Homo sapiens: one gene and its partners. The protein of the gene in region 2 interacts with the protein of the main gene of each other region in a biochemical or structural test. Each region holds a gene or a part of one and is shown on either strand. Other genes may lie near its edges. The genes, in order: SYTL5, RAB6A, BICD2 and GOLGA1.

What was found.
Region 1: the proteins of RAB6A (region 2) and SYTL5 form a complex in vitro, tested with the Homo sapiens proteins (one study listed by BioGRID).
Region 3: the proteins of RAB6A (region 2) and BICD2 form a complex in vitro, tested with the Homo sapiens proteins (one study listed by BioGRID).
Region 4: the proteins of RAB6A (region 2) and GOLGA1 interact in far-western blotting, tested with the Homo sapiens proteins (one study listed by BioGRID).

What each region holds. Positions count from the first base shown.
Region 1 is NC_000023.11:38,100,535-38,107,563, reverse strand, and holds part of SYTL5 (synaptotagmin-like protein 5), read right to left. Parts: intron 5,223-7,029; coding exon 5,130-5,222; intron 4,539-5,129; coding exon of another isoform or gene 4,473-4,538; intron 972-4,472; coding exon 793-971; intron 1-792. UniProt on the Homo sapiens protein: May act as Rab effector protein and play a role in vesicle trafficking. Binds phospholipids.
Region 2 is NC_000011.10:73,675,116-73,681,081, forward strand, and holds the end of RAB6A (ras-related protein Rab-6A), read right to left. Parts: intron 4,606-5,966; coding exon 4,539-4,605; intron 2,848-4,538; coding exon 2,783-2,847; 3' UTR 523-2,782; downstream 1-522. UniProt on the Homo sapiens protein: The small GTPases Rab are key regulators of intracellular membrane trafficking, from the formation of transport vesicles to their fusion with membranes.
Region 3 is NC_000009.12:92,712,817-92,719,845, forward strand, and holds part of BICD2 (protein bicaudal D homolog 2), read right to left. Parts: intron 6,767-7,029; coding exon 5,723-6,766; intron 5,133-5,722; coding exon 4,981-5,132; intron 2,648-4,980; coding exon 2,338-2,647; 3' UTR 646-2,337; coding exon of another isoform or gene 640-645; 3' UTR 1-639. UniProt on the Homo sapiens protein: Acts as an adapter protein linking the dynein motor complex to various cargos and converts dynein from a non-processive to a highly processive motor in the presence of dynactin.
Region 4 is NC_000009.12:124,889,067-124,896,095, forward strand, and holds part of GOLGA1 (golgin subfamily A member 1), read right to left. Parts: intron 1,413-7,029; coding exon 1,323-1,412; intron 471-1,322; coding exon 368-470; intron 238-367; coding exon 77-237; intron 1-76. UniProt on the Homo sapiens protein: Involved in vesicular trafficking at the Golgi apparatus level. Involved in endosome-to-Golgi trafficking. Mechanistically, captures transport vesicles arriving from endosomes via the protein TBC1D23.

The DNA of each region.
Region 1 (7,029 bases), on a different chromosome or scaffold from region 2:
TTGTTCCTAAATTGTTTGTACAAACAATATGGCTTATGCTGAACGGGTTCTTTTTCTCCTGAGAGACTGGAAATTTGGTATGTGACCAGCTGAGTTTCTAACACGCTTCCTTGGCAGACAACATTTCACAGATGTTGTCAGAACTCATCGCCAGAGGAATTAAATGCATCCTATGTGACTCCACTGGGAAAGGACCCTTGCAAAGCTTGAGCCTGATCTCTCCTGGACTTTGCCCCATGTGCCTCTTTGCTGATTATAACTGCGTGCAGAGTCCTAAGTCCTCCTAGTGAATCACTGAACCTGGCAGTGGTCTTGAGAACCCCTGACACACCTTTATATCTAGCTTCTCTCCAGTGTGCTATGGTCCATACCTGCCCTCCCAGGCTGATCTCTAGAATCCTGAGAGCCTCATAATTGCCCTTTTGAGTTGTTTAATTGGGTAACAGTTTGGTAATTTTCTCTGGAGGATTTCCCAGAACAGAAATCGACAAGATGCTTTTGTACATCCTGGGTGTGCCAACATGTCAGCATTCTACTTCAAAGAGCTGCCTCTGTGTAAATTGCAAATATGTCAATCCTGAATTATGTTTTAAAAATCAGTTAATCAAAGACACAACCAGTATACATTTGCTTCAGAGAATATTTAAAAGTGTGGTATAGGAGGAACATGACAATCAACTCTCTGAGAAGACTGAATCAAGAAGAATGCTAAGACTCTTTTGAAAAGGAAACACACATACAGACAAAAAAGGCAGTGACTGAAATAGTCTGAGGAACATGCTATGTGCTTACGCATCTGTCCTCTGTTTCTTTTCATCTCCTATGGCCAGATTTCTGCAATTCTTGACAAAAATGTACAGCCCACCAGTTTTGTAGCAGTAGCTGATATGGAGAAGGATTTCACCACTGACTTTCACGTTGCCATAGTCTCCCGTTTCACTGTAAACGCTCATCATGCTGTTAAGGCTGGTCTGGAATAAACAAGATGGAAAAAGGCTTCTAGTGTCATTCTAATGATCTCTTCACAGAATCAACTCATTTCATTCAATTATAGTTCCTGTTCTTTATAATGAGCATGGAAGTCTAGGGTGAGGAAAGAAAACAAGAGTCACTTGTTTGGCTGGTGTTGTATAAAATCCCAGCTGGAGAAAAGACAGCAGATCTAGTACCATCAGGAAAAAAGGCAGAAAATTTGCTTAGAGGGGAAGCATTTCCTTCTTGGGTTAGAGAATACCCTTTGCTTACTCACTTCTACTAATGAATACAGGGTAATTGAGGCATTTCAAATCTCACTTCTCGTCTATCTCTGCAGCTTTCTCCATTTTCACTGTTAGACTCAAGTTCAATCTACTATAAGGTGTAGAATACATTGATTGGGACAAAGGGTAGCTTATCTCATATTCTGTGCTAGCAGGAGCCACATACTGCTTTCTTTGACACCTACATGGAGCATCCCATCAGTCTCCGGGGAGCCATAACTACAGCTTTAACAAGGACATATCAGAAGAACATCACATACCCACAGCTTCCATGATTTCCCTCAACTGAGTAGCTAGCTGTGTGGCTACATGAGTAGTATATGACCATGGCTTTGTAAATCTGTATAAAGTAGCAGCCCACAAAATAAACTACTACACAATAAAATCACACACCAACCAATCAGGAAAATAAATTTTAAAAAAGTCCAAATCTACCAGAATGAATGAGGCTTTTGACAAGACACTAATGACATGAGACAGCTTTTAATTTATAGTAGTCCCCCTTATCCACAGTTTCACTTTCTGTAGTTTCAGCTACCCATGGTCAACTGCGGTTCAAAAATATTAAATGGAAAACTCCAGAAACAAAAAATTCATAAGTTTTAAATTGTATGCTGTTTTGAGTATGTGAAAGGAAAATATCTTGGGCACCCAAAATCAGAAAGCTAAAGGAAAAAGTCAAGCTGGGAACTTCTTAGAGCAAACCTGCCTCCCATACTACTCAAAGTCATCCCCCTGCTCACTGAGATAAGTGCATATCTAACTGCCTCCTTTGGAGAGGCTACTCAGAAACTCAAAAGAATGCAACCATTTGTCTCTTATCTACCTATGACCTGGAAGCTCCCTCCCCACTTCGTGTTGTCACGCCTTTCCAGACCCAACCAGTGTTCATCTTACATATGTTGATTGATGTCTTATGTCTCCCTAAAATGTATAAAACAAAACTGCGCTCTGAGCACCTTGGGCACACGTTGGCAGGACTTCCTGAGGCTGTGTCAGGGGTGCCGGTCCTCAACCGTGGCAAAATAAACTTTCTAAATTAACTGAGACATGCCTCAGAGTTTTGGGGTTCACAAGTAGCATGATGAACTCTCACATCATACTGCTCCATCCCACCCTGGATGTGAAGCCTCCCTTTGTCCAGTTGGACACACTGTAGGAGCCACACTGCAGATGCTACTTGCCCATTAGTCACTTAGCTGTCTCAGTTATCAGATTGACTGTCCTGCTATCACAGAGCTTGTGTTCAACTCATTCTTATTTTACTTAATAATGACTCCACAGTGTAAGAGTAATGATGGTAGTAATTTACATATGTCAAAGAGAAGCCAAAAGTGCTTTCTTTAAGTGAAAATGTGACCTTGGTGTTTCTTGGCTAGGGTTTGGTACTACGCGAGGTTTTAGGCATCCACTGGGGTAGGTGGAATGTATCCTCTGTGGATAAAGGTGACTACTGTAAATGTAATAAAATTATCCTTTGGCACTAGAAATGAAAACTATGTATCTCAGTAACTGTCACAAAAGACCACCTGGAGGTCTTTCGTGGATGACCCAATAGTTTCAAAACCACTTTTCTGTGAACCACTGGGAAGTCAAGACTATGGTAAATACACAGGGACCTTAGACTGTCTTCTTTTTCATAATTTGCTTTTGGTAAAAGCCATTATGTTCCACCAATTTCTGGAAGTAGAGACTGACCAAAGAACAGGATGTGGGTGATGTGGTCACATGTCTTCTAAGCTTCTTCACGGGCAAGAGCAGACCAATAATTCCATAATTATTTGGAAATTACAGCTTAAAGAAAGCCAGTGAGTGACCTAATCTGTCTTTCTTATTCCTAAAACAAAGCAACAGAATTTTCATGTTTAGCAGGTGGCTTTGAGCAGCACCCAGATACCTTTTTAAACTGAAAACGCTTATCTCCTCAGTCTGGGGTGAGGTCTGAGATTTGGCTGTTCTAACAAACTCCTAGGCCTGCAGTTCCGAAACTGTGTATCGAGGTACCACAGAGCACCACAGCAAACTCACAGGGGAATCACAGAAATATTTTAAATTCTCAAGGGAAACACAACAACACCTATCAGACACCATGTAAGCCACTAACTAGTAATTCACAGTGTCAACTTTAAACCACACTTTATTCTTTTCAATGAACTCCTATTTGTCTGAAGCTGAGTTTTTGGCAGTTGCTGCAACAAAAAGCAAGTATTGCATAAAAATCAATGTGAAATGGGAAATGAAAGTAGTGATGTCCAATCAGATTCCAAGATTTGGTAACTGTGTAGTGCTCAATAGGCACACATATCCTATTAGTGGTAAGTAATAGGTGCTATTTAAGGATGAAATAAAAATACTATTTTTCTTTCAATTTCTTTCACTTGTAGCATTTTTTTACAAATGGCTAGTAAGTTGTTAGGATACACTGCTTATTACATTATTTGGTTCTAACTACTTAATGAATGGACTAGTCAGGTGCTACTTTTAGTGTAGGAGTGCCAGGAAAGAATTACTGAGACATTAGGGGCTTTTTGAACTGAGAAAGTTTTGGGGTATCTGTTCCGAGAGATGCAATGTTGCTGGTCCATAGAGAATGCTTTGAGTATCAAAGGTTTCAAGAATAAACCCCAACCTACTCATGTTACAAATGAGAAAATTCTGGCTCACAAAAATTGTTGGTATGGCCAAGAAATAAAGCAAGATCTCCAAGTTTCTAGTCTGAGGACTACCCCACCATACCTGATTACCTCCTTATATCACTGATTTGTGTCTATACTAGATCTCTGTAGCCACATTTTCAAAGAAAATCCTCTGTAAGCAGAGGGCCCCTACGGATAGAAGGAAATTTAGGAACCCACAAATACGGAGGCTTGTGAGAAACTAAGACACCTATGGCAATTTTACTACTAACTAAACTATATGCTCTTAACCAAGCTAAGGCTGTGATTTAAAATAGTTGTTTACTTCAAAGGTTTTGTTGATAGTTAATCATTTTAGAGCATGTGTCTTTTGAGTGGTGTTCAGATTCCAATGTTTAATGAATTGGAATACTTGGTTTCTGATCATCTCATCAATCTTTTAGAAGATAACCTCTGGTTAATTGTATATAAGTCGGAAAAAGATAAATGTGGGACAAATTGCTTAATCATAGTTCCCAGACCATGAAATTTGTGAAGTATGGTTGGAAAGAACAAAAAGGAAAGGTTGAAAACTCACAGTGTCTGAGTCAGCATCAGGCACATTTAGGTAGGTCCACTTCCTGTCAGAACCTGCTTGAGAACTCTTTAGAGAAGTCATCCAAAGATCAAAAGAAAAAAAGCATCAGAGCAACAGAAATCAGAGAAGCCAAGAAAAAGACTTACACACAGTTAGATACAAGGACACAGGGCCTTCCTCTCAAAAAAGGCCTTGAACACTAAAGTAAGAAAGGACTTTATTTTGTAGGCAGTGGGAAGCTATGGATGGGTTTTGAGTAGAAGACAGACCTGATTGGGCATGTGTTTTAGGATAAATGACTGGCAGCAGTCTGGAGGACAGCTGGGAAGTTTAGAGAATGGTGTCAGGGAAATGTGTCAGCAGATAATTGAAAAATAATTTATAGGCTTGAGCTGACTGAGCCTGAACTAGGGAGTGAGGAGATTTTAAAACCTGGGTGAGGACTGTGGAAGAAGGAAGAAATCAGGAGCCTGAGAAAAAACCCACACCAAATTAGACTGAAATGTACTCTGTGGGCAAAGGGCAAGCAGGATCTTACAATGACTTTTAACTCATTATCACACATTTTCCTAAGAACATTCATATCTCCTTTGGAAATGCACAGAAAATCAAAAAGAGGGAAAAGAAACTTTCCACATGTCCTAGTGAACTGCTTACAGTTGATAGGCCACTTGCCAGACGGTGAGTGTTTGTAGATAACTGCGAGGACACTAAGGCATCAATGCTTTCTTCAGTCTCTTCCAAGGAGTCCTAAAAAAGAAAGGGAAAAATCAGTGGGTTGGTTGATTTGTTTTTCTAGAATGTTTTTTCACTTGAGAAACCACTTTCTTTCATAAATATTTGAGAATCAGATAAAAAATTTCTAGAAATCACTCCATTCCTAGGTTTTTCTCTTTTCCTCTCCGGTCAATCTGAATTATACCATCGGAGAAGTGGGCAGGGATAGGGGGTGGAGAGTGAGGTCTCCTTTCTAATGGTGCTTACTTTATTGAAAGAACATGAAATTTGGAATCATACAGACCTGGGTTCAATTCCTACCTCTAAGGTGATTCATGTTGGGCAATGTACTTACGTTACTTTAAAATTAAAAAAAATTTGTGTGTGTGTGCAAACACACACACACACACTGCCAAGATGGTAAAGCATATCTCAAAAATCTCTCCACTAGGATGAACTAGATACTGGACTCTCATCTCCAATCCCAGATTCTACTTTTCCTTTCCCATTTCTTTTTCTCCTTCATGATAAAATGGCTTTTTTTTTTTTTGCCTAGTTATTTAAGTGATGTATTTTCCTAGTAAAATTATTTCAAGCAATATAGATAAATGGAAACTAAAAACTTAGGTCTCTCATTAACATATTAATGATCAAATTTCAATATTTTTGATTATATCATCACATATATATATACACACACACATACATATATACACACACACACATACATATATACACATAGATAGATTGTATCATGCATACTGCTTTTTATTATGGGCACTTTTCTTTTTTGCTTCTCCTCTCCTCCTTCCCCTCCTTTCACACCAGGTGAAATTAATATTTAGCATCCTGCTGCACATGTTACATTCCATGTCTTTCTCCTTGTTTATGTGAAAAATCATATAAAAACATACACAAATCTGAGTATAAGTATACATTCATGGGAATTTTTTTAACTATAGTTTTATAAATCAGGATTATGATGTACACTTCTGGGCTTGCTTTAAAAAAGTCTTTATTATAAGATACAGCATATTAAAAAGTACATAAAACATAGATATATAGTATAATAACAAAATCAAATGATGAAGCAGAAGCTCCCTGTGTATCCTGTCCATATCACAAGCCCCTTCTCCCCTCGGGAATAATTAATATTTTAACTCTTATGGTTAACCACATTCTTGCTTTTATTTATAGTTTAACTGCATAAGCGTATACTCTGAAACAAAATGATTTCGTTTTGCCTGTTTTTGTACTTTGTGTAAATGTAATTAAATGCTATATATTCCTTTGAGTTTTGCTTTTTTTGCTTAATATTGCCTTAAAATTCATCAAAATTGTGGCATATTTTTGTAGCCTGTTCATTTATATTGTCATTTAATATTCCATTGTATGATATCCAAAACTTTATCCATTCTCTTGTTGCTGAATATTTGGGTTATTTTCAGATTTTTTTCTATTGTGACCAACACTGATATGTATATTCTGTGAATATGTATCCTGGCGCATATACACACACCACAGTATACACACAACACAGTATATATGTTCACACACTTGAATATATACCAGTGAGAGGAATTGTCAAGTCAAGGGGTGAACATATCTCCACGTGCTTATCTATATCATTTTAAAGATAATGTCAAATTTTCAGAAGTAGTTACACCAATTTACAGTCTAACCAGTAGTATATGAGAGTTCCCTTTGCTCCACTTCCTTGCCTGCAAACAGATGGTATTGTTAGATATTTTTTTCATTTTTGCCAATCCAGTAGATGTTTACAGTCTTCATGATTTTAATTTTCATTTCTCTTATTACTAAGTTGAATACCATTTTGTGA
Region 2 (5,966 bases):
CAGTAAGGGGTTCAGCTATGGTTGTCCCAAGGCAGGGGTTGCCCTTTTCTCTGTAAAGGGCCAGATAGTAAACAGTTTTTTGGGTTTTAGGGCCATAAGGTCTGTGGCAGCTATTAAGCTCTGCCATTATAGTGGGAAAGTATGGCTGAGTTCCAATAAAACTTAATTTTTAAAACTGGTTCCAGGCTGCATTTGGTGGGAGGGCCACAGTTTGCTGGCTCCTGTCCCAAGGCAAAGGTATAGTTAGGAGTGAGGACGCAAAAGCAGAACTTAAGATGCTTTTCTTAATATGTCCTATTACTGCCTCCACCAGGGGATGTATCTTTCAAGTTGCAGCCCCTCTCCCCCACCCCCCAACAATACCCCCATCAAAAAAAGAGTCTTTGACTCCCTAGGAGTTCCTCACATTTGTTGTTGTTATTTTTCTGGATTCTGTCCATGTCTGCTTTAAAGGTCTTCCCAGAGAGGGAGAAGTAAATGCTAATTCACCATCTTGGCAGGAATGGGAAACCAGGTCAATAATTGTTTTCTTTCGTGTTTTATTTATATATTTTTGGCAGCAAAATTGTGTTTATTAAAAAAAAAACCTGGACTATGAACACACTTCAATGCTTTGAAGAACTCCAAGCCAAATAAAAAGACCAATCAATATTAAAAGCAGTATAACTGGTTACTTTCTTAAAAATACATAAAAAGAATCAAATGCAACAGTGTAGGAAGACAATCACACCCATGTCAGAAGTCACAACTTCTTCCAAATAAAGAATATGACCCATCTGCCATATTGAATCAATATTTATTTCAGGACATGCCATGTCAAAATAAAACAAAGAGTCAACCCTTGCCTTTAACAATTATATTGTATTATAAAAGCACTTTACAACTCCATCCCATCTTTAAGTATAAGTTACTGGTATGTGGGCTAATGATTATCTGTAAGCATTTCTCTATTCAGATCCATAATCCAAGTGCTCTCTGAATATTACAAGGTGACAATAAGTGGGAAGTGGAGGAGGAAGAGGAAAGAGAGGGGACTAAGGTTCTCCCAGTTTAAGGTTTTGTTCCAATGAGGGGATGAGGAAGTATGAAGATATTTTTGTTGTCTTTTCATCTTTATACTGTGTTAAGTAATGCTTACAACATAAATTCAGCAGGCTTTTCCTGAGCTGTAACTCAGAAGTTTTCGTCCTGCAAACAATGTATTTACAAATGTGTTTATTAGCTTACACAGCAATCTCACAATAACTAGTAAAGATTAAAAGGGCACACTCCTAGTATATTTGTTTGCAGTGTTTTAAGGGAAATACATATTGCCATGGTGAAGCTCTAAATAGATTCAACGAAACATCTGAAGATTGAAAGTTGTTAAAAAAAAAAAAGGCAAAGAAATAAATATCACCAAAGAAAAAAGATTAATTGTAGCTTAAATATAAAACTAAATCACCAGTTAATTAAACTATACAGATCTAATACAAACCAAAACCAGCCTGAAAGACCCAACCTTAAAAAATGCTAAAAAATAAGGCATAAATCTGCATAATATTGAGTTTTATTTCCATTCTCTCCTTTCCCTCTACTATGTATGCTTTACCTGATCTGCCTCTAGGGGCTTACAAGAAAACGGTTTCCGGTTTCCGTCTTCAATTTGACCTCAAATGTCCTGAGCAAAGTTTTTGTTATTCTGCTGAGGGTTCTTTTGTTGGTAAGCTTTAGACATCATTATTTCTACTAATTCAGTAGTTTTGATCGTAGCGCCAAATTTAAATTCTTCCACTGGTTCTTCTGGAAGGAATTAAAACTTTTACAGTGCCTTGCCTGCACAGTATTATGTTTTTAAAAAAGAAAACCCAAGCAAAATCTATTGCTTAAAGAGGTTTCTTATTTTTTAAACAAACAGAATAACTCTTGACAATTTTAAAACCTTGGGAGAAACAGTTCATTAGAACTTCATTTTCTTACCGTGAAGAATTAAATACTAAAAACCTGTTCTGAAGCACTTGGTTAATTTTCTCTCCCAGAGTCTAATAAAGCACATGTGAAAGAGCCATTTGTTTTAGTCAGAAATACATCTTATGTTCTTCTACTTCTAAGTACTCAGTATGTTCTTTAGGACTCATTTTGAAGATGCACCAGGAGCCTTTTCTCATTCAAGCACTGCCTACCATGATGGCTGAATTTTGACCTCAAAGAAGACCGTAATTTATATCAGTGCTCAAGAATAATTTTGGACATCTTGGTCCGTAGCCTACAGCAAGTGGTATCTGTAAAATTAAAGGATAATTCCAATGGGCTTGGTAGAACTGCTGCTTTGCCATCTCTTGTTTGTTTTGAGGAAGTCGGGGGAGGCTAGGTAAGAATAGGGTAATAGGGAATGGGGGTAAGTGAGAGGTGAGAAAAGCAAGGAGAGATAAAGTAGGCTGTGAACATACCGCTCGTTAACCAAGCCATACTCATACTGTTGAGATTTCCATCATTTTGAAGTACATTATCATAACATTAAAAAAGAAAAAAATGTTAAGAAAATGTATCTAATTTTTAAAGTTATCACTGGAATATGCTGAAATATTTTGGCTTTTTGTAAAATATAAATAATGAAGACACTGACTTTTGTTGTGCTTGTGAAGCTAATAGATCATCTCCACGAGACAGGCAGCAATGATGAATTGCAATACGTTATTACTGAAGGGAAAAGGTTCAAGCCAATATTCACACTGCAGTCAATGAAAGAGTAAGGGGGCCAAAGCAGTGAGCTTCTGAAGAAGGTTGAAGATGACATGGGAGATTAGCAGGAACAGCCTCCTTCACTGACTGGTTGCTCCTGAGGCTTTTCCAGTTTTATGTCAATCACTGAAACAAAAGTTAAGAAGCCATAAATGGGAAAGTACAATTTCAATTCTTCCAAACACTAGCATTTCTGGGATGGCCCTTATATTCCTATCTGTCTTCAGAGCCTACACACTCACTATTTTCTACATAGCCGCCTCACCATATAAGGTGCTCAAATGGAATAAACTTGTTTATATCTACTATATGCAACAAGGGTCAGAATGAGGTACAAGCTCTATTTATGGGTATCTATCCTAAGGAACTTATTCTACAGTGGCAAGAAGTGATATGAAGATGATGTTCCTCATAGAATCATCTATAATATAAATCTGAAAATAGCCTACAAGATAGTTCCAACAGCAGAGGAAACATTTAGTAAATAATGGGACTTCAGGCCGGGTGCCGTGGCTCATGCCTGTAATCCCAACACTTTGGGAGGTTGAGGCAGGCCGAACACCTGAGGTCAGGAGTTCAAGACCAGCCTGGCCAACATGGCGAAACCCCATCTCTACTAAAAATATAAAAATTAGCTGGGCATGGTGGCTCATGCCTGTATTCCCAGCTACTTGGGAGGCTGAGGCAGGAGAATCACTTGAATTCAGGAGGCAGAGGTTGTGGTGAGCTGAGATTGCGCTGCTGCACTCCAGCCTGGGCGACAGAATGAGACTCCATCTCAAAAAAAAACGGCGGTGGGCGCGGGGACATACTTCAACTCAATAGAACATTTTTTGTTGTTGTTGTTGTTTTGTTTTTGAAACATATTATGTTTTATGTTGTTGTTGTGTTTTTTTTTTTGGGGGGGGAATGGAGTTTCGATCCTGTTGCCCAGGCTGGAGTGCAATGGCGTGATCTCGGCTCACTGCAACCTCTGCCTCCTGGGTTCAAGCAATTCTCCTGCCTCAACCTCCTTAGTAGCTGGGATTACAGGCGTGCACTATCACGCCCAGGTAATTTTTTTATTTTTAGTAGAGACAAGGTTTCTCCATGTTGGTCAGGCTGGTCTTGAACTCCCGACCTCAGGTGATCCACCTGCCTTGGCCTCCCAAAGTGCTGGGATTACAGGCATAAGCCACCGCGCCCGGCCTGTTTTATGTTTTTTATGAAAACATATAACATTTACAAGTGGGAAGAGCTGAATACAAAGTGCTACAAACTATATGGCTTAATAAAAATGCCTGCATATGGAAATACACTAGAAGGTGAATATGAAACACTGAAAACATCAAATTAAAAATCCTTAGAATTAACTAATATTAGATGTCCCAATCCTTGGAAATGAACTAATATTATGTCCTGTTTCTGAAAGCAGAGGCTACAATAAAGCTCCACTCTATTTCTTGCCTGTGTCAAGTAGAAAGCTCAAGTGTTAGAAAAAGAAATGAAAATTTGATATTCCATGAGGAAAAAGCCTAGAGTCAATGGGACTCAAAATGAAGAGGCAAGGACACAGGGATTCTAAGAGTTTCCTGCTCATTTAAAAGCAAGCAAACAAACACAAAACCTCTCACTGATTAACAACGAGAAGCAGGCTGCAAAGGGTGCACTTGGATAACCAGACCTCATTTGCTATAGAAAACAAATGAATTTCTATGCCTTTAAGTCATCAGTTCCTGGTTGTAAAAGGCAATGGCACAATATTCTTTAGCCAAGCAAGCAGGGCTCTAAAGACTAGTGTTAATAATGAAAAATTTCCAATGAAATAAAAAGGATACTATCTTCTCTGCTTCTGTCCTGTGTGCTTTCCATTCCCGGCAAAGCTGCTGCTACACGTCGAAAGAGCTGTGGGAAAGAGAGAAAAGTGATAACTGAGAGGGAACATTTAGCAAAGGGTACTGAGGTTTATGATCACTGTACAGTGAGCTGTCTAATGCTGGGCGCAGTGGCTCACACCTGTAATCCCAGCACTTTGGGACCCACCCGAGGTGGGCAGATCACTTGAGGTCAGGAGTTTGAGACCAGCTTGGGCAACATGGTGAAACTCTGTCTCTACAAAAAAAAACACAAAAATTAGCCAGGCGTGGTGGCACACGCCTATAGTCCTAGGTACTGGAGAGGCTGAACCTGGAGGACTGCTTCAGCTCAGGAAGTGGAGGCTGCAGGGAGCTGAGATCACGCCACTGCACTCCAGCCCGGGCAACAGGGCGAGACTCTGTCTTTAAATAAATAAATAAATAAATAATAAAATAAAATGTCTATTCATTCTATAAACGAGTATTATATAAAAAGCAATATACCAAATACAAAGAGGTATAAAGACATGATTCCTGTTTTTTTAACTGGTGGGATAAGACAAAAGTAAACAGCTATGAAATAAGCAGCAAAAATGTCATTTGAATAATAAAGTATTACAGAAACGCAGAAAAAGGACAGATCATTCATTTAACAAAACTGTATAGTAGCATTCCTATCTTTCATATAAAGAGTGAGGTTCAGGGCTGGACGCGGTGGCTCACGCCTGTAATCCCAGCACTTTGGGAGGCCAAGGGGTGTGGATCACGAGGTCAGGAGTTCAAGACCAGCCTGGACATGGTGAAACCCTGTCTCTACAGAAAATACAAAAATGAGCTGGGTGTGGTGGCACATGCCTGTAATCCCAGCTACTTGGGAGACTGAGGCAGGAGAATCACTTGAACCTGGGAGGCGGAGGTTGCAGTGAGCCAAGATCACGCCACTGCATTCCAGCCTGGGCGACACAGCAAGACTTCTTCTTGGCGGGGGTGTGGGGGGGAGAGTTAGGTTCTGAAGTCAGTGTATAATATATTGTGAAACTCAGTCCAGTCAAAATTATCCTTCATCGTTCATTAGAAAAGCACTATGTTAGAGATTAATACACCACCCCTCAAGTCCAACACAGCTGGCTTTTCTTCCATCATTGGAATGAGTGTCAGTGGGAGTGGCTGGCTTGTGTTTGAGGTATGAAGCTATGAAAAGTTATCTTCAACAGGAGAAACGCACTCAAGCCTGGTGAGATGTTTACTTTTGAGAGGCATATGAGAACAGATACTGGAACAACAGTTTATACTTCTTATATTGTCCCAATCTTAGGCATACACCCACTGGGTACAACAGCCAGTGAAACTGCCTGATTATTTCAATTATTTATCTTTTAATTAAGCACACAGTGTAAACCCATAAATTAA
Region 3 (7,029 bases), on a different chromosome or scaffold from region 2:
ACATGGCATTTAAAATCTGTAATTTCAAACATGAACCACAATGCCGTATGATCTAAAGGCTGCTGAACCACAGCGTGGATACACTTAGCTGAGCTCCTCGCTGGGTCAAAGCACTCATCTCCGAGTCTAAAGCTACACGCTATGGAGCACACAGCTCTGCCTCGTGCTGACACCAGACAAACACGGTGGGAGCTGAGGCGGACAGCTACAGGACCACGAGCATAGACCACGGCACCTGAGACCGTCTCTACGCGAGGAATTAAGGAAGCAAATATAATATCAAAATATCAAAAGTGCACAGGTTGATCGGATAAAAAAAGAACATGTGTAACAAGGAGCCCCCGTGGTGGGCGTTTCCAGTGGGCTCCTGGCGAGCCTGGCAGCCAGGGAAGAAGGGTCTTCGGCCCATACAGAGGCCTTTCCACGCAGCAGCTCGCAGCATGCTCAACATTAAAGCTTTTTTTCCTCCCATTAAAAACCTGGGGAATGCTATTTTGAAAAGAATTGCAGTGGCATATCCAAAAAGTTTCTAAGTGGGCTTTTAGGTTGCCCTTCCTTCCTCCTTGTGGGCCACGAGAGGGAAGGGGAAGGGGCTGCAGTGTGACAGGGCCGGGTGGCCAAGTCCTCCTGGCAGCTACTCTACAGCTGAAAACGGGAGAAAAGAGAGCGTTAGAAAGCGGTCATCTGTCGCTTCCTGTTTATCTGACAATTGAAGCTCTCCACGTGCTGGGAGGGCGCGAGCACGTTAGTTGGCAGAAGAGAAGACCTGCATGTGTTAGCAGGGGTCCCAGTGGCTTGGGTGTCTGCAAAGTCCCTTAGGAGTATGGAGAGAAGCTATGTGCCAGGCTTGCAAGGAGAGGGCAAAGCGCATGCAGGGTGGGCATGCCAGCAGCCATCCCACTGCGAGTCTTGCTGGGGCAGGGGGATCTGGGCCCAGGATGAACACGCAGGGGACATACATGGGCGTGTCCTGGAGTCTGGAGGGGACCGAAACATACTCGGCACCAAAGGGAAGAACGCGCAGGGCAGAGAGCTGTGGGAGGGGGCAACACGGTCTCTCACCAGGTAACTCGAATGCCTCTTCCGCATGAGAGACAAGGCAAGCAGCCTGCAGGAGAGAAGACTGCAGCCTCAGGTCCAGCTGGTCCCACAGGGTGATCGGGAAAAAAGTACTGAGAAAAGTTCTGCTCAGAATGTGGGAAGGCAGGTGTGGATGGAGCCTCTGGAAATGGGAGAACCCTACAGCTACCTTTCCTCTTTCTCTGTTGCCATCCCCCAGATTGCACTAAATAAAGAGACCTAAACATCTCCTACCTGTGAATCCTGACAAGTGGCCCTGGCCCTATGCAAAGCTTTCCCAGCACCGGGCTGGGCTCTGGATACACCTGTGGGTGTCCAACCCAGCCAAGCCCTTGGTGGCTCAGACTTCAGGCTAGGGTTTTCAAAGCCCCATGTCTTTGGGACTGAACCCCCTATGGAAGGCCGGATAATTGGCTGCTGGGGTCACCCCAAGTACAAAAGGACGGGCTCTGCACTAAGGACCAAGGTCTGGCCAGGCACTTGGAAAGCTTTTCTCATGAAAAATGAAAACCTGGGGCCTTGGGCCCTGCCAATCTGTCACCTCACAGGCCACTATACAAGCATCCTGATCTCAGAAATGAGAAACCGAGCTCTGGATTCCTGGGTTATGGTCAGCTGTGTCTGTGCCATGTGTGTCTGGCCAGCAGAATACAGGGGCTCAGGGCTGCTCTTCTCTGGGCTTGGGGAAGAAATTCTGCACTTCTTTCCTGAATATGATTTGCAGTCAGATACTGCATAAACTACAACGTACTCCTTTCCATGAAACTATGCCAAGTGCAAAGCCATCCTCTGAGGTCGTACCTATGCTGCAGGCTGGAACCTCCTAAAACTGCTTTCTAGTGCTGACATTAGACACATGCGAGGAACATGCAAGTCTCAACTCAGGTTCTGCCCCTTTTGGGTGCTGAGGGAGCAGGACCAGGACTCCTCCCTTGGGTTTCCCCACGGGTGCGCAGGGCTTAGAAGATGCTTTCATCACACATCTGCTGCAAGAATGTGCAGCTCTATCCCCACCTCTGACCCCCACCTAAGAGAGCAGCTGAGGACTGGGTGCTCCTGAGGGGGCTTTGAGGAGTGAGAAGCGACACAAAGCTCTCACAAGTGTCCTGCTGATGCAACGCCCCATGGCGCCTCGGCTAGACTCCTACCCTCTGTGCATTAGTCACGTTAAGATTGACCTAGCACCGCCGTCCCGCTGCTGCTGGGTTAGTTGAGGTGAAGCAGATGTTAGCTGCAGCGTGCGGCGCCCCACAGCCCCTAATCACAGTAAATGCTGTGCTTCTCGCTGCAGAACACCTGGTTGGCCAGCCCGGTGCCCTCGGCCCTGTCGCTGGCACAGGCACAGGTGTGACTTACGCTCGGTGTGGCTGGCTTGGTCTTCGGGGCGGCTTTGGCACGGCCACGCCGGGTCTGCTCATGGTCCAGCTCGAGCAGCTCCAGCCGCTGGGTCAGCGCCAGCTTCTGCTGGATGGCCATGCGCAGCAGCGAGTTCAGCGTCTTCTTCTCGTCCTCAGCAGCCGCCAGCTGCCGCTGCATCTCATCCAGCTGTGTAATGTACTCGTCACACCTGTGGGTACCAAAAACATGACTGAGGGGCGGGCAGAGCCGAGCAGAGGAGGGCAGGGCAGGGCAGGGCTAAGCTGCACGGCCCTCTGACAGCCCTATACCAGAGCCATCCTTCAATGTGGCCTCTGGACTGGAGGGTGTGGCTGGGGAAGAATTATTCTGGCTTATTTTAGCACAGGCTTTGCTTGGACAAATCCCTGATAAGGGTGAGAGGGAGGCTTGGGCCCAGGCAGGGCAGCCCTATGAGGCTGGCTTGAGTTTTGTGGTTTTGTGGGGGAGGGGCTGCTTTGCTCTTTCAGCTGCATGTAGTGCTTACAAACAGGCTATGCCCCTCAGCGACTGGGCTTCTTCTAGGAGGCGCTCTCCCCGCTTAAAGGCCTCGAGGTGGCCTGGGGCATCAAGACATGGAGAAGCCATGGCTTCTAGGGTGTGGATGTAAATCTAAGCAGGACTGGGCTTGTTCCCAAGGTCGATGCTTCGTCAGTCTGTGCTGAGCACTGACCAGAGCCAAGGAACCACGTGTGTGGACGCCATCAACAGCTTCATCCTGAAACCCGGGTGCGGAGCTGTGGGAGGGTGTGGTCTGTCCCTGGATGCCCTTCTTCCACATGTCCCATATGGGTGGGGCTTGGTAGAGACAAAGGGCGGGTTAAATCCCAGGGCTCCCAGGGCGGTGAGGCTGTGCAGGCACTGAGCACAGCCCCACCCTGCCCACACGCACCCTACTCTGCCTGTCCCCACCTGCCAGGAGCCGGCCCTTGGATAGCACCCTCTCCAAGGACTCTGCTGCCCACCCTTTTGAGGGCACACAGAGCTGTGATCCCTGCAGATTCAAAATCTTGGCTCCATCTGAAAAGTTTTTAAATAAAACAAATTTTAAAAGGTAGGGTTTACATGCCAGATACTGAGAAACTGTGGGATTTTTTCCCCAAGCCCCAGGAAGACAGGACGCTTCCAGAGAAATCCTGGGACTCTTCCTTGTCTGTACCCTGCTCTGGCACGTCCTGCAGGGATACTGAGAAACTGGGAGTGCACGGCACCAGGCTTGAGAGAAGCAGGCCCTATGTGCATGCAGTTCCCACCCTGTCCAGCTCAGATCCTCAGCTTGCTCACCCATAAAAAGGAAACATCTAGGTTATCTGCTGGGCCCATGGTGGGCCTGGCTGTCCCCCATGCAGGGCTGACCCCATGGTGCTATCCCAACATGACCCAGCAGGTGGCGCTACCCATCTTTGGAAAGTGAAAGACAGCGGTACCTGTCAGGGGGCACCTGGGAAGATGCTGAAACCAGGACCTGCCCCACAGAGGCCTGTGAACACTTAGGGAGCCTCGATTCCCAGCCTTGGGGTCTGAGTCCCAGCCAGGGAGGGGTGTGCACCCACCAGGGGCAGCCCACCTCAGAGCCCATTACTAAGAGCCCTCCACAGAGGAAGAAAGAAAGCTGGTCTCCTCCAAGCCCCGGCCCTCTCCTCACCCTCCCCAGATTGGCAAAGTAGAGGATGGGAGGTGAGTACCCAGCGGTCACAATGACGCAGAGGTACAGGGCTATGCACAGAGGTGGGACCCGAACTGTGGACCCCAGCAGTGACCTGCTCCAGCCAGGAGGATAATCTTCCTTCTGAATCTACAAACATAAATACACACTTGTGCCATATGGCCAAGTTCTTGGGGGCAAATACCTCATGAGAGGAAAGGCCAGGACTCCTCTGTCACCTGTTGGCCCCAAGTTAAGTCCCTGTAAATGTTGGATTCAAGGGGTGGGAGCCCAAGCATCCCCTGAAGCTATGCAACTCTGGCCCATCCACTCCAGGATCTGCTCTCCTCAGCCCTTCTGCCCTCAGTCTCCATATATGCAAAGCAGAGACAAGCCTGGGCCTGCTGCGGTTTCATTCACAGCAAAATGGAACCGGCGCCACAGAACCAGGCTCCTGGGGGCTGGGCTAGGTGCAAAAGGAACATTAAAAGGATCACACACGCTCTGCTATCCCCGGCCACATGTGGGCACCTGCCAGGCATGCCCTATGCTCCAGCAACTGCTTGCGTGACCTCGGAGGAAGCTGAGGTGCAGCAGCTAGGGGCCCCCAACCCCATGTGGCCCCCATATCGCCTCACCCTTTCTTGTCACCAACTTGAGCACCAGTGTGCCAGAGATGTGCCAGGGGCCATGCTTCCCCAACCTCGTACCATGCTGGCCCTGATGGAGCTGGGCACAGCCACTGACTAGTCAGGGCTGCAGGCCTCAGCATGAGGCAGTGAGAGGCTAAGGGTTCCAGAGGCAAGTGCTGAGGACAGCTGGCCTTGTGGAAGGGGAGGGCCCGACAGCAGCACGGTTACCTGGTGGCAAACATAGCACGCAGCGAGGAGAAGGTGGCTGCGTCCTCCTTGAGGGCCTTGAGCTCATTGCGCAGCTTCATCATGGTCTCGGTAACCATGGCCTTCTCATTCTCATACTTGCTCTTCAGGTTGGCAAGGGCCACCTCGGCCGTCTGGGGGACAGATGTGTAGGGTGGAAAAGTGAAAGGCGTGAAGTCAGCCTAGAGGTGCTCTGGGAGCAGGATCGGGAGCCCCGGTCTGAAGTGGTGGCAGTGCCTGGGAAGAAAGCTCCTGGGAGGCCCCTCCCTGTGACAAACCCTGGGGATGGACTCCAGCAGCTACGCCATGGGGAGTCCCACCTGCTGATTCTGACTGGCAGAGGAGGGACTGCCCCTAAACCTGCCAACAGGACCTCCACGAAGCCCCACAATTGCTCTCCACAGCTCAGACTATGGCTCTCACATGTTTTCCCTCCAGTATCAGGAAGCACTACGAGGCAGTCACAGTGAGTCAAGGGCAGCGGCATTTCTCACTGGCTGAGCAGCTCTGCTGAGGGGCCCTCACACCCACCTGCCTGCTCCACCCTCCCAGCTGGGGGCCCTGAGCAGGGGAGGGTAGGCAGTCGAGCTACTATGGGGCTGGCTCTGTCTGGTGGTGACGCAGGCCTGGGGGGGCCCCGTGGCAGGGGGAGGAAGGAGGCCAAGGGGGAAACACCCTTAGGCCAGTAGTAGGTGACATGTGCCCCTGCTGCCTGGCACCTCACCTGCTTGTTGGCCTTGAGCACAGTGCGCAGCGTGGTGATCTGCTCCCGCTTGGTGCTGAGCAGCGACTTCAGCTTGAGGATCTCCTCCATAAGCGCTTCCTTGTCCTTGTCCACGGCGGGGCCCAGCTCCTGAGAGGCAATGCGCTGGCGTGACAGCTCCGTGGTGCGGTCCACGGCTGCCTGCAGGTGCTTGATCTGGTCACGGATGATAGCGATCAGGTTGTAGATGTTCATGGGCTCCCGGCGTGGGTCACTCAGGGGTGATGGCAGTGAGGAGCCAGGCGAGGGGCTGCTGTCCCCCGTCCCACCATCTGCTCGGCCCGCCTCAGGAGCCAGCAGCCCCTTGGGTAGGAGGATGGGTGAGCGCCGGCCACGCGCCTCGGGGCTGGTGCGGCCCCCGGGACTGGTGCGGCCGGCCCCGCCCTGGCCCTCGCGGTAGTAGTCCAGCATGACACGGTTGGGTGTCTCATTGTTGCACATGCACACGTGGTGGTAGAGATTGGCCAGCTCCTCACTGAAGGTCACCAGCTCATCCTGGGCCACACTCAGGCTGCCCTGTGTCTCGCCGGCGACGTCGCTCACCTTCTTTAGCTCCTTCTCCAGCCGGGCCAGCAGCTCGCGGTCCTGGCGGCTGGCCTTCTCTAGCAGGGAGACCTTCTCCGTGAGTGCCTGGCCCTCAGCCTCATAGCGGCCCTTCTCCTCGGCGTGCTGGGCCTCACGAGCCTCGTGCGTGCTGCGCAGTGCCTTGAGCTGCTCGCGGAGCTCGCCAGCCTCAGCCACAGCCACATGGTACTTGCAGGCCAAGATCTCAGGCCCGTTGATGTCCACCTCGTAGTAGTCCCCATCCTCATGGCTGTCACGGTCCTTCTCGTTGTCCAGGGCTGTCTGCCGCTCCTTGCTGGCCTGCAGGCGCCGCAGGGCACTCAGATTCTCTGTGAGGCGGGTCACCTTCTCCTGCTGTTCTGACAGGGAGCCCCGCGTGTGCTCCAGCTGCTTCTGTGTGTCCTGCAGCGTTGCCAGCAGGCCCGCCTTTTCCCGCTCCATCTGCAAAGGCACAGGCAGCAGGACACCATGTCAGTTGCTATGGACCCCGAGAGCTTGGAGGACCCCCAAGATGGCCTAGTGACATCCCACCCCATGTCAGGGCAGGCTGTCAGCCCCAGGTTCCTTGGCCATGCTGTCAGTGAGGTGGACAAAGACACACAGGGTGTGGAAAGAATGGAATTCATGCTGGGCCCTCAGAACACTAACCGTCACCAGTAATGGTGGTCACCCTCAACGCAGGCTCTTTCCCCAACCATGCTACA
Region 4 (7,029 bases), on a different chromosome or scaffold from region 2:
CTGCCTCCTTAGGGGCACTCTCGGCACCTGCCCTGCATCTTGCTGTAGCACCCATGCAGGTGCAGCTGGGACTTACGTGCGACTCATTGACTGAGAGTGCTTCGGCCTGCAATGGGCCCCGCAGCCTCAGCAGGTCCTCCTGCTCCGCGACCACTGCAGCCTCCTCCGCCTTGAGGGTCCTCAGGGCCTCCAGCTCGGCCTGCAGCTGGTGTATCTGCAGCAGGGCAGAGTTGTGACCTAGGTCGGGGAGGAGGGGAGGGGGCACTGTGAGCCCAGTGACTCCATGCTGCTTGGTGGCAAGGCCGTCACAAGGCAGGATGCTGGGCCTGAAAAGGAGAGAAGGCTCAGCCAGGGACCGACTCCTCACCTCGCTCCAGCTGGAGAATCTCCTGCTCTTTCTGGAGAAGCACTTCGGTTTTTTCCCGCAGATTCTGTTCCTTCTCGTCTATTATGGCTGTCAGGTTAGCTGCCTTGGAGAGAAAAATCAACAAGAGGGAAGGTTGTGAGCAGTGACTCCATCTTCCCACAGAAATCTCCACTTCCCCGCTCTCCAGGGTACACCACGAATCCCTCCCTGAAGTCCACGACCCAGAGCAAACCCCCAGCTAAGCTCTGCTCCTATGAACATGCACAAATCTATTCTCCTTGGTAGGGGCCCTGCACAGGGGCAGTCGCCTCCCACTGCCCCCTGGCCAACAGTGGGTCAACCAGAGACGTGGCCATTCTGCCCAGCCCAACAAGCTGTCATAACTTCCATTTCCTGAGTGCCTGCAACATCCCCAGCACTAGACACGCATTTGATATATGTTGCCTCATTACAGAATAGTTTCCCAGAGGTGTAAGTAGAAGGCTAGAGTCCTCATCAGAGGAGACTCAGATTTGTTAAGGACTTACCAAAGGCCTAAAGCCACTTAACTAGAAGCTCTGGGGTCAGATGCAAAGTCTACCTTCAAGGGAGGCTTTCCCATACTTCCTGCAAAAACTCAACCCAACCTTACGTGGCCTCTGGGGCAGGTGGGCAATGATAGGTCACCTCACAGAATTAGAGCCCACTAGGCCCGTGGACATGGACCACTTTCCAGGTAATTATAGTTGAAAAATCAGAAAAGGGCATCCTATGGGGTAAGAGTTTCTTTATAACATTTGTCTCCCAGCTTCCTAGAGAGCACAGGGGCCCACGCAGCTGACTGCATTCCCTGAGTCCTGAGTCTACTACCCTACCCTGGAGAGACAGGCCCTCTCCAACAGTCTCACGGCAGGATGGGCCTGCTGCCTGTGGGACTGCAGGGGGACATCGCCCCTCAGCGTGAAACAGGGCCCACCTGTTGCTGGAACTCTTCCCTTTGCTTCCGCACCTCCTCCAGGGCTTGAGCCATGGCCACGCTCACAATTTCTCTTTGGCTCCATTCTTCCTACAATGCAGAAAACCACTGAGCCCCAAAACTTAGTTCACAGTTTTTTAGCTGTATGCCACGCAAGAAGCCCAGCAGACAGGGCATGGCTTTGCAGAGCCAGACCAACATGCTCCCCACTTCCCAGGCTCCCAGCCTGGCCCCTCCCTGCCATGCCCTCAGTATCCCTCTCAGAGCTATCCTGGCAGGCAACCCACCGACTTCTCTGGAAATGGCACACCACTGAGGATCGATTGCCCCACGAGCACCCCCGCCAGGACCCACACCAAGGCTAGGGGCCTATCCTGAAGAGCTGGTCTAAGGACAGTAGCCAAGAACAAGAAGTCAGACTCGCAGGCCACGTGAATGGAGTGGGGGACTGGAACAATTGGTTATGGAAAGAAGAAGAAGTAATGACCAGGGACGGTGGCTCACACCAATAATCCCAGCACTTCAGGAGGCTGAGGTGGGAGGATCGCTTGAACCCAGGAGTTCAAGGCCATCCTGGGTAACACAGTGAGGATCTGTCTCTATAAACAATAAGAAAAATTAGCCGAGCATGGTGTCACATGCCTGTAGTGCCAGCTACTCAGGAGGCCGAGGCGAGAGGATTGCTTGTGTCCGGGAGGTCAAGGCTGCAGGAAAATGGATTCCTTCAAGCATCAGCTAGTGAGGGGCTAGGCTGACAAGACAGAACTGAGTCTCTGTGGCTCCAAAGTCTGCCCTAGCGCCTCAGAGCCACCTAAGATCCAGCACTGTGGGAGGTGGGGTTGACAGTGCCTGCTCAGGTTCACTGTGGCACAAAGCAGGGCCTGCAGCTTGCAGAAGCCACCAGGCCACCCATGCACGGCTGCCTCTGCGATGATTCTCCAGGATGGGCTTAGGGAACAGCTGCTTTGAAGAGCGTGGATGGAGAAAAACAATTCTAAATGTATGTGCACCTAATAGCAGCACTTCAAAATACATGAAGCAAAGACAGACAGAACTAAAGGAAGAAAGAGACAAATCTACCATCGTAGTGGAAGACTGAGCACACCCTTCTTAGTAGCTGATGGAACAAGTAGACTGTTAAACTAAATATGGCCTTGATCTGTCTCACCCAGAGCTTAGCGATTTTATTCACCTTCAAATAATCCACCTCAGGCTTCAGCAGTCCTCGCTACTATGAGAGGGTCCCATTCTTTTGTTTTTTTTTTTCTTTTTTGAGATGGAGCTTCTCTCTTGTTTCCCAGGCTGGAGTGCAATGGCGCAATCTCAGCTCACTGCAACCTCTGCCTCCTGGGTTCAGACGATTCTCCTGCCTCCCCCTCCCGAGTAGCTGGGACTACAGGCATGTGCCACCACACCCAGCTAATTTTTGTATTTTTAGTAGAGACCGGGTTTCGCCATGTTGGCCAGGCTGGTCTCAAACTCCTGACCTTAGGTGATCTACCTGCCTTGGCCTCCCAAAATGCTGGGATTACTGGTTTGAGCCACTGCGCCCAGCCTCCCTCCCTCCCTTCTTCACTTCATTCCTGAGACAGTTTCATTTTTGTTGCCCAGGCTGGAGTGCAATGGCACGATCTCAGCTCACTGCAATCTCTGACTCCCGGGTTCAAACAATTCTCCTGCCTCAGCCTCCCAGGTAGCTGGGATTACAGGCATGTGCCACTATGCCCAGCTAATTTTTGTATTTTTAGTAGAGATGGACTTTCACCATGTTGGTCAGGCTGGTCTTGAATTCCTGACCTCATGTGATCCATCCGCTTTGGCCTCCCAAAGTGCTGGGATTACAGGGGTGAGCCACCACGCCGGGCCCATTTTATTTTCTATTTCATTAATTTCTGTGCTTATATTTGTTATTTCTTCCTTGAGTTTGATTTGTGCCTTCTTCTGACTTTTTGAGATGCATACATGGCTCAATTTTCAGGCTTTCTTCCTAAGAGATGCCACTGAGACTGAAATTTCCTTCCATGCACTGCTTTAGTTATACTTGACCAATTTTGATCCACAGTATTTACAAAATCATTTATTTCAAAATATTATAATTATTTTTTTGAGACAGAGTTTTGCTCTTGTCACCCAGGCTGGAGTGCAATGGCACAATCTCAGCTCACTGTGTGAGCCACTGTGCCCAACTTTATTTCAAAATATTTTAAAATTTCCATTGTGATTTTTTTCTTTGACCTATGGGTTATTTGAAAGTGTATTTCAGGCTGGGCATGGTGGCTCACGCCTGTAATCCCAGCACTTTGGGAGGCAAAAGTGGACGGATCACCTGAGGTTGAGAGTTCGAGACCAGCCTGACCAACATGGAGAAACCCCATCTCTACTGAAAACACAAAATTAGCCTAGTGTGGTGGTGCATGCCTGTGATCCCAGCTACTCAGGAGGCTAAGGCAGGAGAATCGCTTGAACCCAGGAGGCGGAGGTTGCAGTGAGCCGAGATCACGCCATTGCACTCCAGCCTGGGCAACAGGAGAGAAATTCCATCTCAAAAAAAAAAAAAAAGAAAGTGTATTTCTTAAATGTAAACATATAAGAGTTTTCTATATGTTTACATTTAAATTTTTATGTTTTTGGAAATGGGTTCTTGCTCTATCACCCAGGCTGCAGTCCAGTTTGTGATGATAGCTCACTGCAGCCTCGACCTTCTAGGCTCAAGAGAGCGTCCTGCCCCAGTCTCCTGAGTAGCTGGGACTACAGGTGTATGCCTTGATGAACTGTGATGAAACCATCACCCTAATAAAAATAGTAAAAATACCCATCCCCCAGAAAGCTTCCTCCTGTCCTTTTGTAATTTATTGTATTAATTTCAGTTATTCTATTTTTCAGGTCTAAAGTTCTATTTGATTCCTTTTTTAAAACTGCTGTCTTTTATCATAACTATAATAATAGAACTATTCCACATCTTGCTGAAATTTTAAATTTTGTCTTTTATCTCCTTAAACATAGTAAGCATATGATATCTGAGCCCTTGTGAGTCTGTTTCTTTTGTGTTGTTTTGTATTTTTGTTTACCTATCTTTGATTTTGTTTTTTCTAGTCACCCAGGAGCACTAATAACCTGGGATCATTTTAATCCAAAATTAGCTAATGGGCTTTTCCTGGGCCACCCCGTGTCCTTCAGTTAGTGCAATCAAAGCTGGGGGCGGGGTGCAGATGGGGTGCTGGTTACTTCCCGTTCAAGCTTACTCCTAGCGTGTAGTCCTGTGGTGTGCCTAACCAAAGCTTTCAGGATCTCCCAGGCTGGATCCAAGCTTTAATAAAATTTAAACTCCAAATTTTATTCCCCTAACTCTGAGAAACTATGAAAAACTTAGATAAACTTCCAGCCTCTTCAGGATCAGCAGATACCACCACGGCAAAAGCTGCTTTGCATGCTGGACTCCCGTCCCTGGGCAGGATGGGCCATTCCTCAGTCCTGTAGGCTCCTACAAGCAGATGTTCTCTTATTTTGGCCAGTTTTTCTGGGAGTCCTCAGGTGAGCTGGTCTGAATTACCTAGTTTGCCTTTACTGCAAGTGGAAGCATCTCTCTAGTCTCATTTTAACCTGCTCTCGTCAACCATATTCCCTACGACTCTACGGTGACTATTCTTCCCAGCGTTGCCAACAAACTCAGTCTCGTCAAATCTAATGGTCAGCTCTTTGTCTCCTTTCTTGACCAGTTGGCAGCATATCACAGAGTTCACTACTCAATCCTTCTTGTAGCGCTTTCTGCCCTGTACTTCCAGAGCCCCACATGCACCTGCTTTTACTGCTACCCTACCTGCGGCTCCTTTGGCGTCTTCTCTGTCGGCCCCTCCTTTTGTTCTGAGCCTGTGCTTGTGGGTGTGGCCCTGGCCTTCATTTTGGCCTCTTTTCTATCTGCACTCATTGATAGCCATTTGGCTGTAATTTTGCCTATGAGCTATGCTGATTGATGGTTTCCTAATTTAAAGTTTTGTGTGTGTGTGTGTGTGTGTGTGTGTGTGTGTTTGAAATAGGTTCTTGCTCTGTCATCCAGGCTGGAGTGCAGTGGTACGATCTTGCACACTGCAAGCTCCGCCTCCTGGGCTCCCAAGCAGCTGGAACTATAGGCACACAGGCTTCCTAATTTATATGTCTACTCAGAATCTGCTCCAATTTTCCAGACTTGTCAGCCTACAGACTACTAGATATGCCTGTTGGGTAGGCCTCTGAAGCTCAACATGCCCAAAATGGAATCCACTCTTGACATACCTCCCAGGACCCCCATCTCAGTGAATGGTACGTACCCTATTCATTCAGTTACCCCAGTGGTTCTCTGCCAGCAGTGCTTTTGCCCCCACAAGACATTTGGCAATGTCTGGAGACACTGTGGTTGTCCTAAGTGGGGCTGCTACTGACATCTAGTGGGTAGATGCTCCTAAGCATCTTATCATGCATATTTGCAGCAAATACAACAAAGAACTTCCACAACAGAGAACCTCCACAACAGAGACCCATCCAAAACAGAGAACCATCCACAACAGAGACCCTCCACAACAGAGACCCATCCACAACAGAGACCCATCCACAACAGAGAACCCTCCACAACAGAGACCCATCCACAACAAAGAACCATTCACAACAGAGAACCACCCACAACAAAGAACCATCCACAACAGAGAACCACCCACAACAAAGAACCACCCACAACAGAGACCCTCCACAACAGAGACTCTCCACAACAGAGAACCATCCACAACAGACTCTCCACAACAGAGACCCTCCACAACAGAGACCCTCCATAACAGAGAACCATCCACAACAGAGAACCATCCACAAGAGAGAACCCTCCACAACAGAGAACCCTCCATAACAGAGAACCATCCACAACAGAGAACCCTCCACAACAGAGAACCCTCCACAACAGAGAACCATCCACAACAGAGACTCTCCACAACAGAGAACCCTCCACAACAGACTCTCCACAACAGAGAACCCTCCACAACAGAGACTCTCCACAACAGAGACGCTCCACAACAGAGAACCCTCCACAACAGACAACCCTCCACAACAGAGAACCCTCCACAACAGAGACCCTCCACAACAGAGAACCCTCCACAACAGAGACCCTCCACAACAGAGACCCTCCACAACAGAGAACCATCCACAACAGAGACCCTCCACAACAAAGAACCACCCACGACAGAGACCCTCCACGACAGAGAGCCTCCACGACAGGGAGCCTCCACGACAGAGAGCCTCCACGACAGAGAACCATCCACAACAGAGACCCTCCACAACAGAGAACCCTCCACAACACAGAACCCTCCACAACACAGAACCATCCACAACAGAGATCCTCCACAACAGAGAACCTCCACAACAGAGAGCCTCCACAACAGAGAACCATCCCCAACAGAGACCCTCCACAACAGAGAACCCTCCACAACAGAGAACCCTCCACAACAGAGAACCCTCCACAACAGAGACCCACCCACAACAGAGACCCACCCACAACAGAGAACCATCCACAACAGAGACCCTCCACAACAGAGACCCTCTATAACAGAGAACCATCCACAACAGAGAACCATCCACAACAGAGAACCTCTACAACAGAGAACCATCCGGCCTCAAACGTCAATAGCGCTGAGGTGGAGAAACTCTGAGTTATACAAACCAAACCTAGGTGTCATCTACAATTCCTATT